Linked DNA regions of Homo sapiens. The protein of the gene in region 1 purifies or fractionates together with the protein of each later gene. This does not show direct contact. Each region holds a gene or a part of one and is shown in the gene's direction. Other genes may lie near its edges.

Region 1 (3,500 bases):
TATAATTATATTATAAAGTAAATCAGTATAAACAGTATTATAGTTTTATTCAGAAAATATGCAGAGATTTTTTATCCTTTTTCAACTAATTCTATTATTCTTGATTTTTTATTCCTCAGAGGTTTGGTTTTAACTACATTGAAATCTTTTTTTTTATGTAGTTAAAATATAGATTGTAAAATTCAACAATGTTAACTAACATGCATAGATTCAGAGGATTTTAAAGTGAGCTTAGAGGAACCTCAATCTAATGCCATTACCTCCCTGAAGAGAAACTGAATCTCAGAAAAATGAAGTTACTTATATAATGTAAAGTTTCATTGATAGAATGATAAAGACCTCTTGTCTAAGTCTTATCTAACCTCTTTTATTTCTTTTTTAATTTTTACTTTTTCTAGGTCATAAGTCATGTCTTGGTAAAGAAGGAGAGTTAAAAGTCAATAAGCATTACAAAAATTGCCATTTTGACATCAGCAAATCAAATTTCTCTATCTAATTAAAGGAAAACCCTTTCTCTTATTTCTCTTCTCTTTTCCTCTTCTCTTCCTCCTCCTCTATTTCCCCTCTCCTTATCCCCTTGTCTCCCTCTTCTGCTCTTTCTCTACTTCCTCTTTCTCTTTTTTTGATATATTTCTATCATATATTTTCAGAAATAATTCAGTGGCATCTCATGTAGATGTACCACTTTCTTATTGCAACTCAGAGTGCAATTGTGATGAAAGTCAGTGGGAACCAGTCTGTGGGAACAATGGAATAACTTACCTGTCACCTTGTCTAGCAGGATGCAAATCCTCAAGTGGTATTAAAAAGCATACAGTGAGTATTAGTTTTCACTTTTTCTCCTCTCCTTAATCAAAATCACAGATTTGATTTAATAAATACTTATCAAATCTTCCTATAACTAAGGTCTCCAATAAAAAGATAAAACAAAAAGATTCCAGTATTATCTGTCCTCGTGATAGCTGTGAAGTGTAAACAAAGCTTCATATAAAACTCTGCTTAGGACACAATCAGACTTCTCTGTTACTTGAATTCTAATTAGAGATTACCCACTTTTTTTCTTGAGATTTTAAGAATATGACCTGTTAGAATTTGAATGCATTTAGGGTCTCTAAGAAGCATCTCATTTGACTAAAGCACATGATTTTTATTATTTGGAATTACTTTACCCTTTGGAAGTTAGGGGAAAGTTCAGAGTTAGCCTGTTGTCAGCACTACCTGCTTTACGAGAACAATAATCTATTTGCATTTTAATATATACATACTGATAAGTGTAGCTAGGGACTCACTGTGGCCTTGGACTTTCCAAGAAATGAGTCAAGTCTTCATGTTCACTTGAATTCCCTATTCTTGATTTCCTATTTTGATGTTCCCAAAGCTGGCACTTCTTTTACTCAGTATAATTTAGTATCCTACTCACTGATTGCCAACATATCCATTGGAAATTCCATTTCTTTCTTAACTCAAAGGCTTTTTTTTTTCCATGTGACACATATCCTGTTTTTCCCAATATCCTGGGTAACTCCCAATGATTGGAAATTAGGTATGCTGTTCCCCATACCTACAATCAATTCAACATCTCACAAGTTGCATAACTATTTTTCAGGCCCTTTCCCTATTACCAACATTAGCAATATAGTCAGCTGCGATTATGACTCTCTACCACACTCTTCCATGCTTCAATTCTAAACATTTTCTATCTTTCCCTTGCCCAATATCCTACCAACGTATTATTAAACGGCATGGAGAAATTTGAAGAATAAAGCCTCCTAGTTTCCTTGAAGATAGGCTACAACTTTAGTAAACTTGCACATTTGTGGCCCAAAGACTATACTTAAAAGCCCACATCTCATATTCATCAGCTATAGTATCTTTCAGTAAGAGTACCCCATTTAATCCCTGGTCCTGTGTTGTCCAGTAGTGAAGACCTGAAAGAGAGGTGATATTAGTATCCTAAAGAGAGCTCTGTCTTCATGGAGACATCATCTTAATATTGGCAATGGCTATGCTATGTGGGGGCTACTGCAAAGTTCCTTTACTAAATCCTCAGTAAAATTGTTAAAATAATGCTCTCTGTATCAAAGTTGGGTTTCATTGGCCAATGTGCTTGCTCCATAAAAGATTCCTCCATGTTATTCCTATTGAAAAAAAATAAAAGGAAAAAAGGAATCTTTCTTGAACCATACGAGTATGGATTTAAATTCTTTTTTTTGTTTTGAGATGGAGTCTCACCCTGTCACCCAGGCTGGAGTGCAATGGCATGGTCTCGGCTCACTGCAGCCTCCACCTCCTGGGTTCAAGCAATTCTCCTGCCTCAGCCTCTCAAGTAGCTGGGATTACAGGTTCTCACCACCACACCCGGCTAATTTTTTTTTATCTTTAGTAGAGACGGGGTTTCACCATGTTGACCAGGCTGGTCGCAAACTCGTGACCTCATGATACGCCTGCCTCATCCTCCCAAAGTGCTGGGATTACAGGTGTGAGTGACCACGCCTGGCCAATTCTTTTACAAGTTCTCCTTCAGTAAATAGTCTTCAGCAGTAGTAGGTTCAAGATGAACTTAAATCTTTAGCCTAGAATCAGAGCAGAATTTATTAAAGCCACCTAACCACATACACTGCCTGCCTGATCTCTAAAATTACTTGTTCCTAATATTCCTCTTCTATATTCTAACCATTAGCCAGCACATTCTTTTGTGTTAAACCTTTCTGGTAATAATATACTATATCTTGTCACCTGTCATTATGGTCTTGAATGTTGCTTTTGCCTGCTTAAATAGAATTCTGGCACCACTGCCTGGCTCTATTTCCTCTGCACTCTGTCCCATTTTCATGAGTGGCTAAGTTTTGTCCCGTTTCAAACTATATTTTCTGGATTCTTTTGGTAGTTCTTTCCCAGAGTAAGTCCCTAATACTTAGAACCTGCCAAAGAGAGTAAGAATGTGTATTTTGGAAAGAAAATGTAGGTGGAAGAGAAATATTTTAAATAATGTATATTAATGAAAAAATTATATACAGAATTTCATACACTAATTTCTTAAATTCCTAAATTCAGGGAGCTATTTTGCCTTCACTATTAAGCAACTATATTTTTATAACATTTTTTAAACTGTAAATATTTTAGTTTGAGACTTCTTTAAATATAATGGAATGTATTCATAGCCCTGTTGTATTTGGCAAATGTATTTGTTAATATTTCAAAAACTATTTTTAGGTGTTTTATAACTGTAGTTGTGTGGAAGTAACTGGTCTCCAGAACAGAAATTACTCAGCACACTTGGGTGAATGCCCAAGAGATAATACTTGTACAAGGAAATTTTTCATCTATGTTGCAATTCAAGTCATAAACTCTTTGTTCTCTGCAACAGGAGGTACCACATTTATCTTGTTGACTGTGAAGTAAGTATGATCCTGTAAAACATTGTCATGTATATTAGACTAAAACACACCTAATGATAGGCATATTTTTCTGTATTTTGAGCTCAAATTCATATTTTGTCA
Region 2 (2,155 bases), on another chromosome or scaffold:
ACAAGGTGAATAAGACTACAGGATACAAAGGAATCATCTTCCATTAACAAAAGTTGAGAAAGAGAATCTCATTGGAATTGAAGGGAAGTGGATGAGTTGTGTTTTCAATATTGTTCTTCTTTGTCACTAGGCATTAAAACCTTCCCAAGTTCTGGATCCCAGTTCACGTCCTTGTTTTTCTTGTTTTGGAGATATATTCACACACATACCGCTGATGCCATTTTCACTTTTGTTCCTTGTTATATGTTCAGCCATTCCTTATCATCTTCAGCATCTATGTTCCACATTCAAGTCCCATGAAGCCCCTCTCTTATTTCCATCTTCATGTGTCTCTTTTCTCCTTTTATAATTGTAGCATTGAACTCTTCAGCTGTTTTTTATGCATTACCATTATCATTTGCTGATCATCTCATGTGTGTTCTCCACCCATTCCTCCCTTCTTTGTGGCCAAATTCCAAGCTCCTTGAAAACACTGCAAGACCACAATATTAAATTTTTAGTGTTTATCATTTTGACAAAGTGTAAGCCTTAAAAAATTTTTTTGGTTAAGGTATCTGGCCAGGTGCAGTGGCTCACGCCTTTAATCCCAGCACTTCGGGAGGCCGGGGCAAGGGGATCACCTGAGGTCAGAAGTTCAAAACCACCCTGGTCAACATGGTGAAACCCCGTCTCTACTAAAAGTAAAAAAATTATCCAGGTGTGGTGGCATGCACTTGTAGTCCTAGCTACCCAGGAGGCTGAGGCACAGGAATGGCTTGAACCCAGGAAGCAGAGGTTGCAATGAGCCAAGATCGGTGCCACTGCACTCCAGCCTGGGTGACAGAGCAAGATACTGTCTCAAAAAAAAGAAAAAAAAAAAAAGTTTGTACATCAAGTTGAATGATGAAGAATAAAAAGGAAAAACAATAGTTTCTACAGCTGTTAGGGTGATTTACTAACACTGCTTTAACCCTAGGTCATTCTTAATTTTGTTTTCTTTTCCCCCTCTCAAAAACACTGGAAAATTTTCTTAAATCTGGGAAGTATCTTGGTATGTGTCTTAAAAATGATTTCTCAATGACTTTTTCCTCCTTTTTTGTTTTCTGTTAAAGGTGACTTTGCTGTTCTACTAAAGGCTGGCATGACCGTTAAGCAGGCTGTCCTTTATAATGCATTGTCAGCCATGCTGGCGTATCTTGGAATGGCAACAGGAATTTTCATTGGTCATTATGCTGAAAATGTTTCTATGTGGATATTTGCACTTACTGCTGGCTTATTCATGTATGTTGCTCTGGTTGATATGGTAAGTTTTTAAGAAGTCTTATTACATTATTGACCAACAATAAAATAGAGAAAATATTCGGTAAAGCCTCATTTTTTTTCTCTCTTTTTGGGGGAGCAGGAAGTGGAATCTTGCTATGTCGTCCAGGCTGGTCTCAAATTCCTGAGCCCAAATGATCCTTCCATCTCAGCCTCCTGAGTAGCTAGGACTATAGGCTCAATAAAATATCTTTTTTTTTGGCTGGGCACGGTGGCTCATGCCTGTTAGTCCAACATTTTGGGAGACCAAACCAGGCAGATCACGTGAGGTCAGGAGTTCGAGACCAGGCTGGCCAACATGGTGAAACCCTGTCTCAACTAAAAACTACAAAAAAATTAACCAGGGTTGGTGGCATGCGCCTGTAGTCCCAGCTACTTGGGAGGCTGAGGCAGGAGAATCACTTGAACCCAGGAGATGGAGGTTGCAGTGAGCTGAGATTGTACTACTGCACTCCAGCCTGGACAACAGAGCAAGACTCTGTCTCAAAAAAAAAATCATTTTTTTAAAAAAGATTTTAAATGCAGTCATTATGAGAAGTGATTCTATATTCAGAAATTTGTGGCATATAAGAATATAGGTTCTTTAGAGTTTTTTTTTTTTTTTTGGATTGTTGATCACACCTTTATCTTGCTTAATATGTGTCCAGATTCACAAAAATATCTACATCCTTCTGATGTATCATTTTAGGGTATGATCTCAGTAATCAGGCAGTGAATTTTCTATAGATTTGTAGGAAGTCTAGGACAAGATGCATATTGTTGGCATGCTGTATACTTCAGAATGCTTAGTTTATTAATCAACAAAGGAGTCATATCTTTTTGTCACTAATGTCCTCAAAACAATCCCAACCAATCT
Region 3 (3,500 bases), on another chromosome or scaffold:
TGTTGGTGAATAACAATGATGCATAAAATTGCTGGTGCCATAACATGGATCAAGATGTTAGCAGACTCTACTAGTGTCATTGCATTTTCATTGCCATGCATTGGCAGTTAAAAAAAAAAGTGCCAGTTTTATTTAATCTTGTCCTTGATGAAGCAGTAAAAATTATTAATTTTATTAAATCTTTACCTTTAAGTATGCATCTTACAAATATTCTGTGTGATGCCTACTGAAGTATGATGGTTGTCTCAGGAAAAGCACTTACATTATTTGAGTTGTGAGCTGAACTATGTGCTTTTTTCGTGGAATACCATTTTTACTTGAAAGGATAACAGTCACAGAGACTATTCAGAATAGGATAATTGGTACACATTTTCCTGAAAATGAATGAAGTGAACCTTTTCTTCAAGGAGAGCAACTAATTTATTTGTGAGTCATGATAAAAATTTAAGTGAAGGTTGAAACTTTGTAAAACATATTTGCTGCTGTGGTGAGCTTGACAGCTTCCCAGTGCTTATAGACTCTTCTTATGAAATTGGTGGTGATCATATTTGTTAAAATATCACTTTTTGATATTTTAACAAGGAAATGTGTCAGCATTTGGAAAGTCTGCATAACTCAGAGAACCAATATTTTCTAAATGTCAAATCACCATGGGTAAAAGACCTAATGGATTTTAATTTAGTGTACAAAATTTTATGATATGGTTTCAGGTATACTGCAATATGGTTCATTGCAACTAATTTTTAAGAAACGACCACTTGTTGAGTTTTAATGTGGTATTAAAGAATATTAATAATGATCTGAAAAGGCTATTAAAATACTTCTTCCCTTTCCAACTATGTATCTTTGTAAAGTTGGATTTTCTTCATATACTTAAAGCAACATAACAGACTGAATATAAAAGTAGATAAGAGAATTTAGCTGTCATCTGTTAAACTAGATATTAAAGAGATTCAACCCTGATGGCACTGTTCTCACTAAACTTTTTCTTTTTTGAAAAATATAGTTTTTTAAAATAAAAAGTAGGTTTATGTTAATAAGTGGTATGGGTTTACTGTTTTGAATGAATTAATAAACACTTTGTTTTAGCTTTATATAAATATTTATAACTTTTTATATGTATATGTATAAAACTTACACTAAAAAAGCTCTTTAATGTTCTCAGAAAGTTTTACAAGAACAAGGTCCTGAGACCAACAAGTTTGAGAATTACCAGATTAAATGACCTAAACTGCAATGCTTTTTAGAAATGTCTCTGATTGCTTTTTAGAATTGTACATCTTTATTTCTTTCTGTTCATTTATCTGTTCATCTTTTACTTCACTGTTAGCTGGCTTCTGATATCCCCTGAATCTTATTTGGTTTTCTATTTCTAATCTGTGGGTGAGAAACCAGGTAACTAATTTTATTTGAGATGTCTATTAAAAGCAAAGAGCTCTGAGTGAGGGTCTTAGAGTCTTTCTTGTGACAGGAAACATAAAGTTAACTGTGTGGATTCTCTACAAACAGGGACTTTTTTTTCTTTTTCTTTTTAAATCAGTTAAGGAGAAGAAATATACATGTATATCATTTATAATTACATAGTTATCTTTACCAGTGCTTTTTGTCTTCTGTTTTTTTCAATTTTTTTTATTTCCATAGGTTATCAGGGAACAGGTGGTGTTTGATTACATAAGTTCTTTACTGGTGATTTGTGAGAATTTGGTGCACCTATCACCTGAGCAGTATACACTGCACCCAATTTGTGCACCTGAGCAGTATACACCACACTCCCTTCCCATCCTTTCCCCCTGAGTCCCCGAAGCCCATTGTGTCATTCTTAAGCCTTTGCATCCTCATAGCTTAGCTCCTACTTGTGAATGAGAGCATATGATGTTTGGTTTTCCATTCCTGAGTTACTTTACTTAGAACAATAGCATCCAGTCTCATCCAGGTCGCTGCGAATGCATTAATTCATTCGTTTTTATGGCTGAGTAGTATTCCATCATGTATATATATACCACAGTTTCTTTATCTACTCGTTGATTGATGGGCATTTGAGTTGGTTCCACATTTTTGCACTTTTGAATTGTGCTGCTTAAACATGCGTGTGCAAGTATCTTTTTCTTTTTTAAATTATTTTATTAGTATACTTTAAGTTTTAGGGTACATGTGCACAACGTGCAGGCCTGTTACGTATGTATACATGTGCCGTGTTGGTTTGCTGCACCCATCAACTCATCATTTATGTTAGGCACTTCTCCCAATGCTATCCCTCCCCCATCCCCTGACCCCACGACAGGCCCAGGTGTGTGATGTTCCCCGCCCTGTGTCCAAGTGTTCTCATTGTTCAGTTCCCACCTATGGGTGAGAACAAGTGGTGTTTGGTTTTCTGTCCTTGTGATAGTTTGCTCAGAATGATGGTTTCCAGCTTCATCCATGTCGCTACAAAGGACATGAACTCATCCTTTTTTATGGCTGCATAGTATTGCATGGTGTATATGTGCCACATTTTCTTAATCCAGTCTATCATTGATGGACATTTGGGTTGGTTCCAAGTCTTTGCTATTGTGAATAGTGCTACAATAAACATATGTGTGCATGTGTCCTCATAGTAGCATGATTTATAATCCTTTGGGTATATATCCAGTAATGGGATCACTGGGTCAAATGGTATTTCTAGTTCTAGATCCTTGAGGAATCACCACACTGTCTTCCACAATGGTTGAACTAGTTTACACTCCCACCAACATTGTAAAAGCATTCCTATTTCTTCACATCCTCTCCAGCACCTGTTGTGTCCTGACTTTTTAATGATCGCCATTCTAACTGGTGTAAGATGGTATCTCATTGTGGTTTTGATTTGCATTTCTCTGATGACCAGTGATGATGAGCATTTTTTCACGTGTCTATTGGCTGCATACATGTCTTCTTTTGAGACATATCTGTTGATATCCTTTGCCCACTTTTTGATGGGGTTGTTTGATTTTTTCTTGTAAATTTGTTTAAGTTCTTTGTAAATTCTGGATATCAGCCCTTTGTCAGATGGGTAGATTGCAAACATCTTCTCCCATTCTGTAGGTTGCCTGTTCACGCTGATGGTAGTTTCTTTTGCTGTGCAGAAGCTCTTTAGTTTAATTAGATCCCATTTATCTGTTTTGGCTTTTGTTGCCATTGCTTTTGGTGTTTTAGTCATGAAGTCCTTGCCCATGCCTATGTCCTGAATGGTATCGCCTAGGTTTTCTTCTAGGGTTTTTATGGGTTTAGGTCTAAGTCTAATCCATCTTGAATTGATTTTTGTATAAGGTGTAAGGAAGGGATCCAGTTTCAGCTTTCTCCATATGGCTAGCCAGTTTTCCCAGCACCATTTATTAAATAGGGAATCCTTTCCCCATTGCTTGTTTTGGTCAGGTTTGTCAAAGATCAGATGGTTGTAGATGTGTGATGTTATTTCTGAGGCCTCTGTTCTGTTCCATTGGTCTATATTTCCCGTTTGGTACCAGTACCATGCTGTTTTGGTT
Region 4 (3,203 bases), on another chromosome or scaffold:
GTCCTGGGATTACAGGCATGAGCCACCATGTCCAACCTCAGATCTTTTTAGATGCCTCAGCACCTTTGGGCATTAATGAGGAAGAGAAGTGTGCTTCCTCAGGGAGCTAGTTCCAGAGGAAAGAGGGTTTCAGGCTGTATTACTGAGTGTGACAAATACGTCGGAAGGGCCCCGCTCTGGATGATTGTTCTCACTCAAGAGAGAAAGCCTAGGTAATGCTCAATTTCCAGCCCTTCCGTGCTGGGAATGGACCATTCTGGGAACCTATCTGGTGAAAGGAGATTTGACCACGTATATCACGTACCCACTATCAAATATTAAATTAGTTTACAGCATAATATACTGCATACTGAAAGGGCCAACTTTGATTTATTCTTCCTCTGAGGGTTCAGGAAATGAAGTCTTGAATAGGTCATCATCATAAACACCAGTTTTCATCATGTCCTTTTGTTGGTGCAGAAGGGATTGAGCTGGGCTGAATTCATAATGGCCTCAGCCTCCCAGGACCACCTGACCAGGTTTCCAAGTGATTCTTATCCTTAGAAAGTTTGGAAAGGCTTTGACTATTTTTGAGTTTGGGAGATTCTTGGTTGGCATAGATTTACTATGCTTTTGGAGAAAGAAACATTGGAATGTTCTACCCAATGGGTTTATTAGACCATTGATGCCCTGTGAAACAACTGCTTTTGTTTATTCCACTTATTTGAAAAACTCCTTTGAAATATTTGATTTCCTCTGGCTCCCGATTGGGTAGTGGTATAGTATGATCCTGTATCCAAGAGTAGTCCCTAGGGGCAGGGAGCTGGTGAGTTGGCCAAAGCCACCATCTTTAGTTTTTCTAAATGATACAGAGCTAGTGTTTCTTGCCTCTTTATCTCTTTTCTCCTTTTTTCTTTCCCTTTTTCCAGGCACAAGAAGAAGAATACCTGTTCATTCTTCAGAAGGACCCAGATCTCTTTCAGCGAGGCCTTCAACTTATGGCAGATCAACCTCCATGAGCTCATCCTGCGTGTGAAGGGGTTGAAGCTGGCTGACCGGGTCTTGGCCCTAATATGCTGGCTGTTCCCTGCTCCACTCTGAGTGGAATTGCTCTCCCTGCCCCATTCTGGTGTCTTTCCACTCCTCAGCCCCTCATCTTGCCTCCACCCAGCTGCTCCATTTTTGCCACATCGTGGCCCGCAGCCCCAGAGTCACTGTCCATGTCACCATCCTTCTCCTCCTTTGGAATCCTCTCCGCACACTGTGGCCCTTGTCTCAGGGCCCACAAGCTGAACTGTGGCATAGCTCTCTCTTCTTCTCCAAGAAGACTCAGCAGCCTACATTCCCATTCCTGGTATGTGCCATTGGGTTGGATGTCCCCACTACTTCCGTTAACCCTTCCCATTGTCAAGATGTGCCACGGGTGCCACTGGGGGCACACTGAACTTGTAGGGAGTGTGATTTTGTTGGAGGTGCACATGGTCTCTGAATTTGACAGAGAACACCTTCCCTTTCCTTGCCATGTCACCCTCCAGAGGAAGTCACACCTCAGCGAGGTGGTTTGGCATCTGGGGCCAACTCCATTACAGCTATGAGCTCACTGCTGTCAGTGACGTTTGGTGTTTTCTGTACTGTGTTTCAATAAAAACTCCTTCAAGGTTGCAGGATTTGTCCATCATAACTCACTGGCCTCCCACCTGACCCCAGGCACGTGCCCTTCCAGAATGTGCTCATGGTCCTCGCCAAGGGCTTATGGTTCCTCTTGGTTGCTGCTTCCTCAGGGTTTCCCAGGGAGATCTAGGGAACAGAAGGCCAGGGGCTGTTTGGTGGGATTTTCCTTATAGGTTGGGAGTTCACCTACAATGCCCATTAGGTCAGAGTGGACCTGAATCGAGTATTGGTGTGATCTTCTGCTTGGCTTCTTGCTCCTGTAATCCTTCCAACCTGTGGGGCCACTTCCACTATGGGGCCACTTCCTGCTTCTTGGGGGTTTCTCTTACCTTCCAAGACTCAGACTCTGGTTGGAGGAGTTAAGAAGCCCAAGGCCAGGAACTCAGAGGCTCAGCTGAAACCTTGGACCTTGTTTTTCTGTGACCTGGGTACCAACCTTGTTCTACTGTTTCCTGACTTATCCCTTTGGTTCTCATTCAGTGGCCCCAGTTTTAGGCCTGGAATTCTACTTGTCTCCCCCCAGTCCTTCTGGAGACCTTAGTCCTCTTGCTGAAACCTCCGTCACTGTGGCTGGGTTTTCACTGGGAAACTTCTGTGTTTCTACCCCATTGCTTGCTGCCAGCACTGCCTCTCCCCCCAGCCTGGTTGTCTGCTTCTGTTTCTTGGACATCCCTAAGCTCCTGCTCTAATTCCCATGTCTTTGTCTTTGGCAGGTCCTACTGTCTGCTTTCACGGACAGTAATTGTATTTGAGCCTCTCTGATCTTACTTCACCCAATTCACAAGGGCAGAAAAAATCCTGAATTTGAGCCTAATTTTCTGTACTCTTTATTCATAGTACAGCAAGCAGATTTTTCAGTGATCAGTGACAATTCACAATCCTTTTATTTCCCAAAAGAATTAATTGTTCTTAGTGACCAGTTGGATGCACCCAGGGACCTGAGAGTATAATTTGCAATATCTGATTATTAATCTTGAGGATGTGTGCTGCATAGTATATTTTATGGTGTCTTTTATAGCCACTGAAGTAAATATAAATGTCCTTTCTGTTCAAGGTCATGGTTACTTGCTTTTTAGTTTGGGTATGTGTAATGGTTGGCTTCGTGCTGTCCTGGGATCTAAAACATCAGCATGGTGCCAGTGGGCCCAGCACCCAGAACAGTTAGCTGGGGTGAGCAGAGAGGCAAGAAGAGTTGGGAGTATGGGACTGTGTGAAGATAGCAAGGGAGGAGGTAGATGTTTACTGAGTGCCTTCCATATGTGAGAGTCTGTGTTAGGCTCTGCAAATATGTTACATCATTGAGTTTTCCCATCCCCTCTGTGATGGAGGGGTTATTAGCCTCATCTTACTGAGGTGGGAACCAACGCTCAGAGAGGTTTAGTAATTTGCTTGTGGCCACACAGCTGCTGAGTAGTGGCCTGTGGTTTTTAGTTTTTTTCTTTTAAATTATACAGTGCTGTAGAGATGGAATACATTTGCTCCTTGGGCTGTCTTATATGCCTGAGTTTGGGTCTCAAATGTCCTGAATTCAGAGGAAATTGGATTTACAGGAG
Region 5 (3,500 bases), on another chromosome or scaffold:
GTGGGTGGATCACAAGGTCAGGAGTTCAAGACCAGCCTGGCCAAGATGGTGAAACCCTGTCTCAACTAAAAATACAAAAATTAACCAGTAGTGGTGGCGGGCGCCTATAAACTCAGCTACTTGGGAAGCTGAGGCAGAGAATTGCTTCAGGCTGGGAGGCAGAGTTTGCAGTTAGCCAAGATCGTGTCACTGCACTCCAGCCTGGGCAACAGAGCAAGACTCTGTCTCAAAAAAAAAAAAATTTACTCAGGGCCAGGTACAGTGGCTCATGTCTGTAATCCCAGCACTTTGAGAGGCTGAGGCAGGTGGATCACTTGAGCCCAGGAGTTGGAGAACAGACTGGGCAACGTGGCAAAACCCCCCTCTACAAAAAAAATTAGCTAAGCATGGTGGCGTGTGCCTGTAGTCCCCGCTACTTGGGAGGCTGAGGCAGAAGGATTGCTTGAGCCCAGGAATCTGAGATTGTGGTGAGCCAAGATTGCACCACTATATTGCAGCCTGGGTTACAGGGTAAGACCCTGTCTCAAAACAACAACAACAAAAAAACAAAACAAAAAACCAAAAAAAACCAGTACTCAGAATGAGAAAGAGAAGGAGAAAGCAAATATAGTAAAAATGGACATTTGGAATATCTGGGTGAAAGGTTCTTGTATCTTTTCTGTAAGTCTAAAATTATGCCAAGATAAGTAAAAACAAAACACCTATTTTCTTTTTACAGTTCTTCCTATTTTTCATGGATTTCTGAAAAGGCAGAGACTAGAAGAAACTTGTTTAGCTATCTCATTCTGCTCATTTAGGGGCTCTACTTTTAAAATTAAGATGGTAAAAGGAAAGCATTTTACCCATAAGTAAAAGAATGCTTCCCTTTATGGACCACCTCTCGTAACAGATGTTTTAGAAGAAAGACCTGCTTTCTTATCTGAACATTTACTGCCCTTTCTGAATGCCTAATAGACTGTGTTTATTCCAGGTATATGAGTAGACCAGTGATGAGTGGCCCAGGACTCTATGACCCTACAACCATCATGAATGCAGATATTCTAGCATATTGTCAGAAGGAAGGATGGTGCAAATTAGCTTTTTATCTTCTAGCATTTTTTTACTACCTATATGGGTAAGTTGAAAAGGTAAAATGAAATATGCTTTCACTTTGCTGCTTTAAAAGTTTGCAGGCATTATGGTTTTCACACCTCAAAATCCATTTGAAGAATAACTTAGTGTCTTAAGTGTGCATGGTGCACACCAGCAAATTCGCACACATTCAGTGTGGCCCACACTGGTGCTTGTCAAGGCAGTAAACCAGCCTGCCATCAGAGGCAGAAGGTTTGGTCAGGGATGCTGCTTCATAAGTTTTCAGACACATTCAGTCAGTAAAGGATGGTCCTCATTCTCCATGGCAAAGTGATGTCATTGAAGGATAGGGATGTGTGAGTTTGCAGAAATTTCTGCTTGTCTTCAGGGTCTCTCCAGACATTATGTTTCATTTTTTCCTTATCATTCTTCATAAGTGGTGTGCTCTGCCCTTTATTTTCTGATTTGCTTGATTTGAGTGGTATGAATGAAAGAAGTAGTTCTACCTTACAGGGTGGTGCAGTTTCCGATTTTTGTTCTTTTTTTTTGAGTCGGAGTCTCTGTTGCCCAGGCTAGAGTGCAGTGGCGCGATCTCTGCTCACTGCAACCTCCGCCCCACCAAGTTCAAGCAATTCTCCTGCCTCAGCCTCCTGAGTAGCTGGGATTACAGGCGTGCACCACCACGCCCGGCTAATTTTTGTATTTTTAGTAGAGACAGAGTTTCACCATGTTGGCCAGGTTGGTCTTGAACTCCCGACCTCAGGTGATCCGCCCACCTTGGCCTCCCAAAGTACTGGGATTACAGGCGTGAGCCATCGCGCCCAGCCTGATTTTTTTCCTTTTATACTCTCATGGACTCATTGTTCCTCTAGGTCAGGGTGTCTCAGCTTCGGCACTGTTGACGCTTCTGGGCTGTGTGGGAATTTCTGTGGGAAGCTGTCCTGTATATCATGGGACGTTCAGCAGCATCCCTGGCCTTTACCCACTAGTTGCCATGAGCACCCTCCTGCCCCCTCATGACAACCAAAAATGTCTCTGGACATTGCCAGATGTCCTGAGGGGCAAAATTGCCCTGGGTGAGAACCACTGCTGTAGGTGTGTTGTAGGTGCAGTGAAATGACTGCTTATTAAAACTAGAAAAGGACACTGTTAAATGTAGAATTATATATTTCTTTAAGCTATGTGAATATACTTTTACACATCACTTATATAAAATACTTTCTCATTTTTTATTAATACATACTCAACTAGAGAGGACTTTCTCCTTGATTTTCAGAATATTTCCAAAAAAGCTGTAAGCTTTAAAAAACAGCATAAGCTTCCCTTCTCTTTTTCATTACTTGAAAACTTGCTAAGATAGGCTTATATTCATATTCATATTTCTCTTCATACATAAGTTTCCATCATAGAAAAGATGAATGGTTAGACTGAAATTTAGGAAAAAGGTATTTTTGGTATTTTTATGCCTTTAGAGGCTATTACTGTGAAAATGAGTATCCTTTAGTGCATATGCAGATATTACTCATCTATGAAACAAAGAAGTGCTCTGAAAAGTGAAATTCTATGTGTCACTTTAATTTCCTGTTAATTTTCATTTCATAAGTTTCCATAGCAAATGTCTGGAACGGGCTGGTGTATGATAGGCACTTCATACGTATTTGTTGAATGAAAGAAATGAAATGAATGATTGAATAAATGATAAAGTTGGAGATGTGCAGTTGTGGGAAAATGTTCAGCAGGATATGGTAGCACCAGGACATTTGTTGTGTTTTAAGGTTGTCTATCAAGCTTGTTCAACTCCTTTGTATTTCTGTTTAGAGTTATGTGCTTTTTGAATCATGCCCCTATGCCGTTCCCATAGCACTCTGTAGAATTGCCCTTGGCAGTTCTTAAACCTAAATCAAAAGGTCATTGCCTTTTATTTTGCTGTTTTCCCCCCTTTTCTTTTTTAACCACTTCCTAAAAGTTGCTATTGCTTAGATCCTTTCTGTAATGGGAAAGATCCTTGATTGATCATTCCTTTCTATACAATGGGGATACACATGGTACCTGCCTTCTAGGACTCCTTGAAGGATTAAGCAAGGTAATGTATATAAGAGACCTAACAGGGCCTGGCGTGAAGTGAGCCCTCCAGAGATACTCATTCTATTATTAGACACAACTCCAGAGTGTGTGATGTTTGGATGGCTTCTCTAAGCTCTGATCCGCCATTAAGCTTTCAGCTGTGCCGTTCTACTTGCTAAAATTGGAAGGGAATAGGGGACAACTACAGCATATGCACTGAGCCAAGTCATATGTTAGGCAAAAGTCCATAAATGCAAATTAAAATCACTGTGAACTTGTCATTAGTCTTGTCATTTTCTGTGATACTAGTTTGCTATATAAAGCATACTCTCTCATGCTCTGAGTTTTTTTTTAATAATTAGTAA
Region 6 (3,500 bases), on another chromosome or scaffold:
GTGAGCGGCAGCCTGGCCTTCTTCCATGAGGATCTCTGCCCAGTGCTTCTGAGCCGTGCCTGCGGTGTGTGCACCCTCGAAGCTTGCCTGGCCCAGGTCCCAGAGGCCACACCTGCCTGACGAGGGCCTGCTTGCCACCTCATAACGTGGCCGCGGCTGCCCCTGAGCGGAGCATAGAGGCAAGGGGCCAGGGCACCCTACTCTCGGGGATGCCTCCGGCAAACGCACCAGCCGGGGTCTCAAGACCTCGCACCTCTGGAAGCCCTGCCTCCCAGTGCTGTTGCCCTGGGGGTTAAGTTTCCAACAGGTGAGCTCAGGACACGGGCGGCTGCAGCAGGGGTAGGAGCCTGTGGCTTCCACAAAGACATAATGGTGAAGCCGAGCTCTGAAGCTGGGACGGGAGTGACCTGTCCTGGGGCCTGTGGCCTCCTGACCTGGCCTGCGCTGGCCCCGTGTCCCCAGTCTGTGTCCCTATCCCCCAAGTCTGTGGTCTCTTCCATCCTTGCACACAATGTTAAGTCCCCACACGGTCTTCTTCCTAAATCTCACAACTTAAATTTATATGAAGGATTTTGTTTTGTCTTGTTTTGAGTCAGGGTCTCGGTATGCCGCCCAGGCTGGAGTGCAGTGGTGTGATCACAGTTCACTGCAACCTTCGCATTCCAGGTTCGGGAGGCCTCCCACCTCAGCCTCTTGAGTAGCTGAAACCACAGGTGCACGCCACCGCGCCTGGCGAATTTTCGTAATTGTTTTTGTAGAGGTGGGGTCTCCCTATGTTGCCCAAGCTGGTCTTGAACTTCTGGGCTTAAGTGATCCACCTGTCTTAGCCTCCCAAAGGGCTGGGATTATAGGTGTGGCCACTGCGTCCTGCCTATATGAAGGTTTTTGTGTAGCCATACCTGAAGCATCGAAAATAAAACATGGGCCGGGCCCAGTGGCCACACCTGTAATCCTAGCACGTTGGGAGGCTGAGGTGGGTGGATCATTTGAGGTCAGGAGTTTGAGACTAGCCTGCCCAACATGGTGAAACCGTATTTCTGTTAAAAATACAAAAATTAGCCAGGCGTGGTGGTGCACCCCTGTAATCCCAGCTACTCGGGAGGCTGAGGCAGTAGAATCGCTTGAACCCGGGAGGCGGAGGTTGCAGTGAGCAAAGATTGCGCCACCACACTCCAGCCTGGGTGACAGAGTGAGACTCCATCTCAAAAAATAAAATAAAACGTGAAGAGTGTGACTTTTGGAAGCTGTGGTTGGAGAGTGGGGTCTGGTGGTGATTCTGTGTGACAGAGGGGGAGGGTCCATGTGTTTCCCCGGGGAGGGGACCGTGGCATCCACCTTCCCCAGTGTCTCTGGCGTGGCCCGGCACCCCACAAGCCCCACGTCCCGGACGCTTTTCGCGTTGCCTGGTGGAGCCTGTCGCTGTTGGTGGCAGGTTCACGCAGCCATGGAGTCCTGGGCCGGCGGCATCCGTCTGGCTGTTCGGGGTCCTGGGGGCCCAGTCTGACGGCCACCTGCCCATTTGCTGTCTTGCAGGGTGGATGTGAACACTGACCGGAAGATCAGTGCCAAGGAGATGCAGCGCTGGATCATGGAGAAGACGGCCGAGCACTTCCAGGAGGCCATGGAGGAGAGCAAGACACACTTCCGCGCCGTGGACCCTGACGGGGACGGTACTGTGGCTGGGCCGGGGTGGGTGGGGCGGTGGGCGGGGCGGGCAGGGCCATGGGCCTTGCCTGGTGCCTGGAGGGCAGACAGGCCCTGTCTGAGGGACGGGCGGTGGGGAAGTGTCAGCCGGAGACCCCGAGGTGTGGTGGGGTGCACGGAAGCTGGGTTCATGATGCCAGAATCCTGGTGACAGAGGTGTGTGTGCCAAGCACTGGGCGTGGCCCATGGAGGGCGCCTCTTATGTCTTCGGGGCCTTCATCTGGTGGTGTCTATGCCTCTTGGTGGCCCCGAGGCACAGACGTTGCCGGCTGGCCTCACAGGTGAGGAAACGGGTGTGGGGTGCTGGCCGGGGCCCTGGGGCTCCAGACGCTGGCATCCTGCCGCTTCCAGCCTGGGCAGCAGAGCAAGACCCCATCTCAGTTGAGAAGGAAGTTCAGCTCAGTATCAGAGGCCCTGACAGGTGTGATCTGCTCTTCCAGGTCACGTGTCTTGGGACGAGTATAAGGTGAAGTTTTTGGCGAGTAAAGGCCATAGCGAGAAGGAGGTTGCCGACGCCATCAGGCTCAACGAGGAACTCAAAGTGGATGAGGAAAGTGAGTGCTCAGCCAGGCTCCCGCCACCGGTCTCAGGCATCCTGTGTGTGCGCGCGTGTGTTGTGTGTACATGAGTGTGCCGTGTGTGTCGTGTATGAGTGTGCCGTGCGTGTGCTCGTGAGTACGTGTGTGCGTGCCGTGTGTACGAGTGTGCTGTGCGCGTGCTCGTGAGTACGTGTGTGCATGTTGTGTGTACGTGTGCTGTGTGTGTGCTCGTGAGTACATGTGTATGCGTGTCGTGTGTACGAGTGCACTGTGCATGTGCTTGTACGTGTGTGCGTGTCGTGTGTACGAGTGCGCTGTGCGTGTGCTTGTGAGTACATCCAGGTAGCTGTTCATGTAGGCTCGTGAGTACATGCAGGTGAGTGCGCCCTCACACCCGCTGTGTGCACACGTGTTCGTCTTAACAGCATGGCCCAACCTGGTTGGTGGTGGCTGTCAGGAGGGAAGTGGGTGAAGCCGTTGCTGACCTAGGCGCCGCCCAGGAGTCCGGTGGGGAGCGTGTGAGCTGTGCCTGGGCAGCTTTCAGCTCTGCTGGTCACGGCACCTTCACGGCCGTTACTCAGTTAGGTCCTGCAGAGAATCTGAGGCTGTGAGTCTGGGTTGGGGCCTGCCCCGTACTCTGAAGGCCACGTGAGGCAGAGTTTCCTGGGGAGAGGGCACAGCCTGTGCCTGAGGGCCTGGCCCTGAGGCCTGGGTCTGCTGGAGACATCTGTGTGGCCGTCAGGTGGTCACCAGAGAGCGGTCAGGTCCCAGGGAGAGGCTCTTCCTTGGGTCTGGGGTGTGGCCGTTGGCCAGCAGGGCAGCCTCAGCCCTGGGCGGGTCCAAGCTGGTGCCTCTGCGTGAAGAGGGTGGGGCCGGGTGGGGCCCGGCACCCGGGCTAAGGCCAGGTGAGGGGAGAGCCGGGCCACCCTGCACGGGGCCAGGTCTGGGAGAGCCGTCCAGGCAGAAGCCCCTGCTGGCCCAGTTGTGAGGCACAGCTGAGCGGGTACCGTGGCGTTGCTGCCACCCTGGGGCTCCGTGTGCCCTTCCCGGTCATGCCCGTGGTCTGGTTTGGGGCTTTGAGGAGAACGTGCAGAGTCGCCTGCTCCGTCGCTGCCCGGCATCCTGGGGTGGGTTCTCTGCTGCCCTGCAGGGCGCCCGTGTCGCCCACGGGACTGGTCACGTGATACGGGGCTGCTCCTGGCAGGCTGGGTGTATCTTACACCTTTATTTTTTGTGCCTGCTTAACTTATCAGTAAC
Region 7 (3,500 bases), on another chromosome or scaffold:
ACAGGATGATTATTTGCCCAGCCGAAATGTAGGGTTTCCATTATTATCAAAGAAAAAAGAGCAGAATAGGAGATAGCTACAAGTCTCTATCTCTTACAGAATGTAAGTCAGACACATCACTTGAGGGGCTTAAAATTTTTAACATTTCTTGATGCTTTATGCTTATCATTTGTAATGGAAGATTTGTATGGTGGTAGCCTTCCATAAAGACTGCTTAATTCAGTCACTTCACCAGTACGTAAACATGAGTTATATACTGGGCATTGAACTGTTGTGAATTTCAGGATATATCCTTTCCTGTTATACCTATACAATAGTAACATCTATAAAGTCATGGCTCCTAGGGTTGTGTGTTTGAAATTCTTACTTGCATGAGACTATCTAGAGTGGGATTGTGGGGGAGGATTATATATCTATAATAAAGTGTCCTCAGGTGACTGATGTGAACCCCTTGTTGAGAACCACTGTAATAGAAATTTTTATTTTTATAGGCGTTGGGAATAGCTTGATAAGTAGGATAAAATCTCTTAATGGTCTAGCAAAGATACAGGCACTTAAACATGTTAATATAGTACAGTGTGGTAAGCATTAATGGTGTGAAAGCACCAGGTAGGAATAGTTAATTTAGTCAGGAAGGATAAGAAGGGTCTAAAGGACATTTGAGCTTAGACTTGAAGATGACTGGCAGATTGCCAGGCGTGCCAGGAAGGAGGTTAGGTCTGTTAGGGAAGGAAACAGCCTGAGCAAACGCATGGGTGCTTGGTATCCTGAGAAGCCTAGATTTTATTCTGTAGAAAGCAGCATGCACTCCATAACTTTTAAAGTTGTGAAATATCTTTTTTAAAAAAACATGTTTTTTTAGAATGGAAACTGGCAGAAGTAATATCTGTGAATCTGATTCCCAAGGAAATGGGCAGAGTAAAATAAGAGGTTAAAGTGGAACCTCTGGTGTTAAAAATTGAAGAACCACGTTGGAAAGACAATAAAGAGTTCTGGTCAATATAGAAATAAGAGGGAAGAGTACTGTTATTTATAGAAACTAAGAAATAAAACTGAGTTTTATGGATGAATGATCAAACAGAGTTCTGATCTGAATGAAGTAAATTTCTGTTGTGTAAAATAAGAGCCTGATAAAAGTAAATTAAGTTTTGAAGTAGTGGTTCCCAGCTTATGGGCCCTCCATGGAGGAGTAGGCAATGAAATTAATACAGTCATAGAGACTATGTTCACCAAGCATGATCTTTAATAATTGATCTTTGTGTCTTCTCAGGAGAGAAAAGTGTGGAGTTGAGTGATACTAGATCTGTAATAGGGCCTGGCTGGAATCTGTCTTAACTGCGCTTTTATCCCAGACTGGTTCATCATTACATTAGGGACAAAAAGGTTGGCAGTTGCTGGTGTTTTGGTTGAATAAATAATGATGTGCACACATGGAACAATTTTTTTTTCCCCCAAGACAGAGTCTTGCTCTGTCGCCCATGCTGGAGTGCAGTGGTGTGATCTCAGCTAACTGCAACCTCTGCCTCCTGGGTTCAAGCAATTCTCCTGCCTCAGCCTCCCGAGTAGCTGGGATTACAAGCGTCCACCACCACACCTGGCTAATTTTTGTATTTTTAGTAGAGGCAGGGTTTCACCATGTTGGCCAGGCTTGTCTTGAACTCCTGACCTCAAGTGATCTGCCCGCCTTGGCCTCCAAAGTGCTGGGATTATAGGCGTGAGCCACCAAGCCCAGTCAAACAAATTTTTAAGTGTATGTAAGAACATACAAATTTACTTAAGTGCTTTATAGAATTTATAGTTATCCTATAATCATTTTCTAGCGCCAGAAGAACCACTACTACTGAAGGAAAGATCTTTGGAATTTATTTACCTTAGAAATTACTTCTCGTATGTTAAGAGGTTGATGACTGCTTTAAGGGACCTAAAATATAGAATTAAGCATTACTTTCTAATGTGACATTAGAACTTTTAAGCACCGAGGTTTCTTGATTCTTCTAGGTGTATGTATGGATCTATGACCCAGTTCACTTTAAAACATTTGTCATGGGATTAATTCTTGGTAAGTAGTGAGATGTTAATAGCTATAAAGTGCAATCTAAAATTTAGAAAACAATATGCAGATACTGTAAAAGAAAATGTTCCTAAATTTAACATAAAATAGTTGTCATTTTAAAAATACTTTAAATAAAGTCAGAAGATAAATAATACACTAAGGAAAATATTTGAAACATATTAAAGATCTTTTAAGAGATTAACAAACTGATAGAAAAATGGTCAAGGTAGTTAACAGATAAAGAAATACAATGACCAATCATCATGAGTGATACTTAATCACACTCATATACAAATTAAAGCTGTAGTGATTAAGAGTCTTGCAAACCTTAACATTAAAGGTCTTAGAAAAAAATCAGCTCTCTCTAACAGTTGATAGGTATGTCTATTGTTTTAATTTTTGTAAAGGGCAGTTTGTCAGTATCTTTGAAATTTTATGTGTCTGCAGTGACCCAGCAATTCTAGGCTGTTCCCATACAGTTGCACAAAGTGTGTGCATTGACACATTATCTGTTTTTTTCCAAATCCCTTAGACTATACTTGAGTATAATCTAGCAAATATCTTTCAAATTCAAAATGCTTATACCATTTGATCTAATAAATTCCACTTTAAGGAATTTACCCTATGCCATAATCACAGTTGCACAAACGTACATGTGCAAGGATATTATACCTAGAATAGATAAAAAAAGAAAAGAAAGTTACAGACGAGTAAGAATAGTATAAGCTCATTTACTTATTTAGAAAAAAAGTCCCTGTAGCTAGTTAATTATATATAGGCAGTCTCTGAGAATACAGGTAAGCTTAATAGTACTTAACCTCTGGGAAGTGGAATAAGAATTAGATGAAGACTTAATTTTCTCTATACCTTTTGATTTGCTTGTTTGTGACAGGGTCTCATTCCTGTCACCCAGGCTGGAATGCAATGGCACAATCATGGCTCACTGCAGCCCGACTTGCTGGGGTCAGGTGATCTCCCACATCAGCCTACTGAGTAGCTGGAACTATAGGCACACTCCACTACACCCCGCTAATTTTTGTATTTTTTTGTAGAGATGGGGTTTCGCCATGTTGCCCAGGCTGGTCTCAAACTCCTGGGCACTTGCCTCGTTGTCCCAAAGTGCTGGGGGTTTGATTTGTTTTTGATTTGCTTTTTAACGTGTGTATTCCAGGAGGTTTTATGGGGAAAGAATGATTTAACAAACAGAAAAAAAAAAAATAGGTAGCAGTTAAAATAAGCTTGGTCAATATGGTATGATAGGATCCCATTCAAAATAACTCTTTAAGGCTGGGCTCAGTGGCTCACACTTGTAATCCTAACACTTTAGGAGGCCAAGGCAGGGAGATGGCTTGAATCCAAGGGTTCGAAACCAGCCTAGGCAACATGGCGAAACCTCGTTTCTACAAAAAATTAGCCGGGTGTGGTGGTTCACACCTGTAGTCCCAAC

The links.
Region 2: the proteins of SLCO1B3 (region 1) and SLC39A6 purify together in Homo sapiens (affinity purification with mass spectrometry; one large-scale study listed by BioGRID and IntAct). This does not show direct contact.
Region 3: the proteins of SLCO1B3 (region 1) and FAM114A2 purify together in Homo sapiens (affinity purification with mass spectrometry; one large-scale study listed by BioGRID and IntAct). This does not show direct contact.
Region 4: the proteins of SLCO1B3 (region 1) and ADCK1 purify together in Homo sapiens (affinity purification with mass spectrometry; one large-scale study listed by BioGRID and IntAct). This does not show direct contact.
Region 5: the proteins of SLCO1B3 (region 1) and CNIH1 purify together in Homo sapiens (affinity purification with mass spectrometry; one large-scale study listed by BioGRID and IntAct). This does not show direct contact.
Region 6: the proteins of SLCO1B3 (region 1) and SDF4 purify together in Homo sapiens (affinity purification with mass spectrometry; one large-scale study listed by BioGRID and IntAct). This does not show direct contact.
Region 7: the proteins of SLCO1B3 (region 1) and SEC62 purify together in Homo sapiens (affinity purification with mass spectrometry; one large-scale study listed by BioGRID and IntAct). This does not show direct contact.

The regions. Positions count from the first base shown.
Region 1 is NC_000012.12:20,880,205-20,883,704, forward strand, and holds part of SLCO1B3 (solute carrier organic anion transporter family member 1B3), read left to right. Parts: intron 1-650; coding exon 651-816; intron 817-3,213; coding exon 3,214-3,398; intron 3,399-3,500. Other genes in the region: SLCO1B3-SLCO1B7 readthrough transcript protein, read left to right, coding at 651-816, 3,214-3,398. UniProt on the Homo sapiens protein: Mediates the Na(+)-independent uptake of organic anions.
Region 2 is NC_000018.10:36,110,186-36,112,340, reverse strand, and holds part of SLC39A6 (zinc transporter ZIP6 isoform 1 precursor), read left to right. Parts: intron 1-1,091; coding exon 1,092-1,282; coding exon of another isoform or gene 1,283-1,294; exon of another isoform or gene 1,295-1,347; intron 1,348-2,155. UniProt on the Homo sapiens protein: Zinc-influx transporter which plays a role in zinc homeostasis and in the induction of epithelial-to-mesenchymal transition (EMT).
Region 3 is NC_000005.10:154,021,911-154,025,410, reverse strand, and holds part of FAM114A2 (protein FAM114A2), read left to right. Parts: intron 1-3,500.
Region 4 is NC_000014.9:77,932,312-77,935,514, forward strand, and holds the end of ADCK1 (aarF domain-containing protein kinase 1), read left to right. Parts: intron 1-908; coding exon 909-1,080; 3' UTR 1,081-2,703; downstream 2,704-3,203. UniProt on the Homo sapiens protein: Appears to be essential for maintaining mitochondrial cristae formation and mitochondrial function by acting via YME1L1 in a kinase-independent manner to regulate essential mitochondrial structural proteins OPA1 and IMMT.
Region 5 is NC_000014.9:54,427,875-54,431,374, reverse strand, and holds part of CNIH1 (protein cornichon homolog 1), read left to right. Parts: intron 1-970; coding exon 971-1,114; intron 1,115-3,500. UniProt on the Homo sapiens protein: Involved in the selective transport and maturation of TGF-alpha family proteins.
Region 6 is NC_000001.11:1,222,002-1,225,501, reverse strand, and holds part of SDF4 (45 kDa calcium-binding protein isoform 2 precursor), read left to right. Parts: intron 1-1,533; coding exon 1,534-1,670; intron 1,671-2,144; coding exon 2,145-2,258; intron 2,259-3,500. UniProt on the Homo sapiens protein: May regulate calcium-dependent activities in the endoplasmic reticulum lumen or post-ER compartment. Isoform 5 may be involved in the exocytosis of zymogens by pancreatic acini.
Region 7 is NC_000003.12:169,983,807-169,987,306, forward strand, and holds part of SEC62 (translocation protein SEC62), read left to right. Parts: intron 1-1,998; coding exon 1,999-2,059; intron 2,060-3,500. UniProt on the Homo sapiens protein: Mediates post-translational transport of precursor polypeptides across endoplasmic reticulum (ER). Proposed to act as a targeting receptor for small presecretory proteins containing short and apolar signal peptides.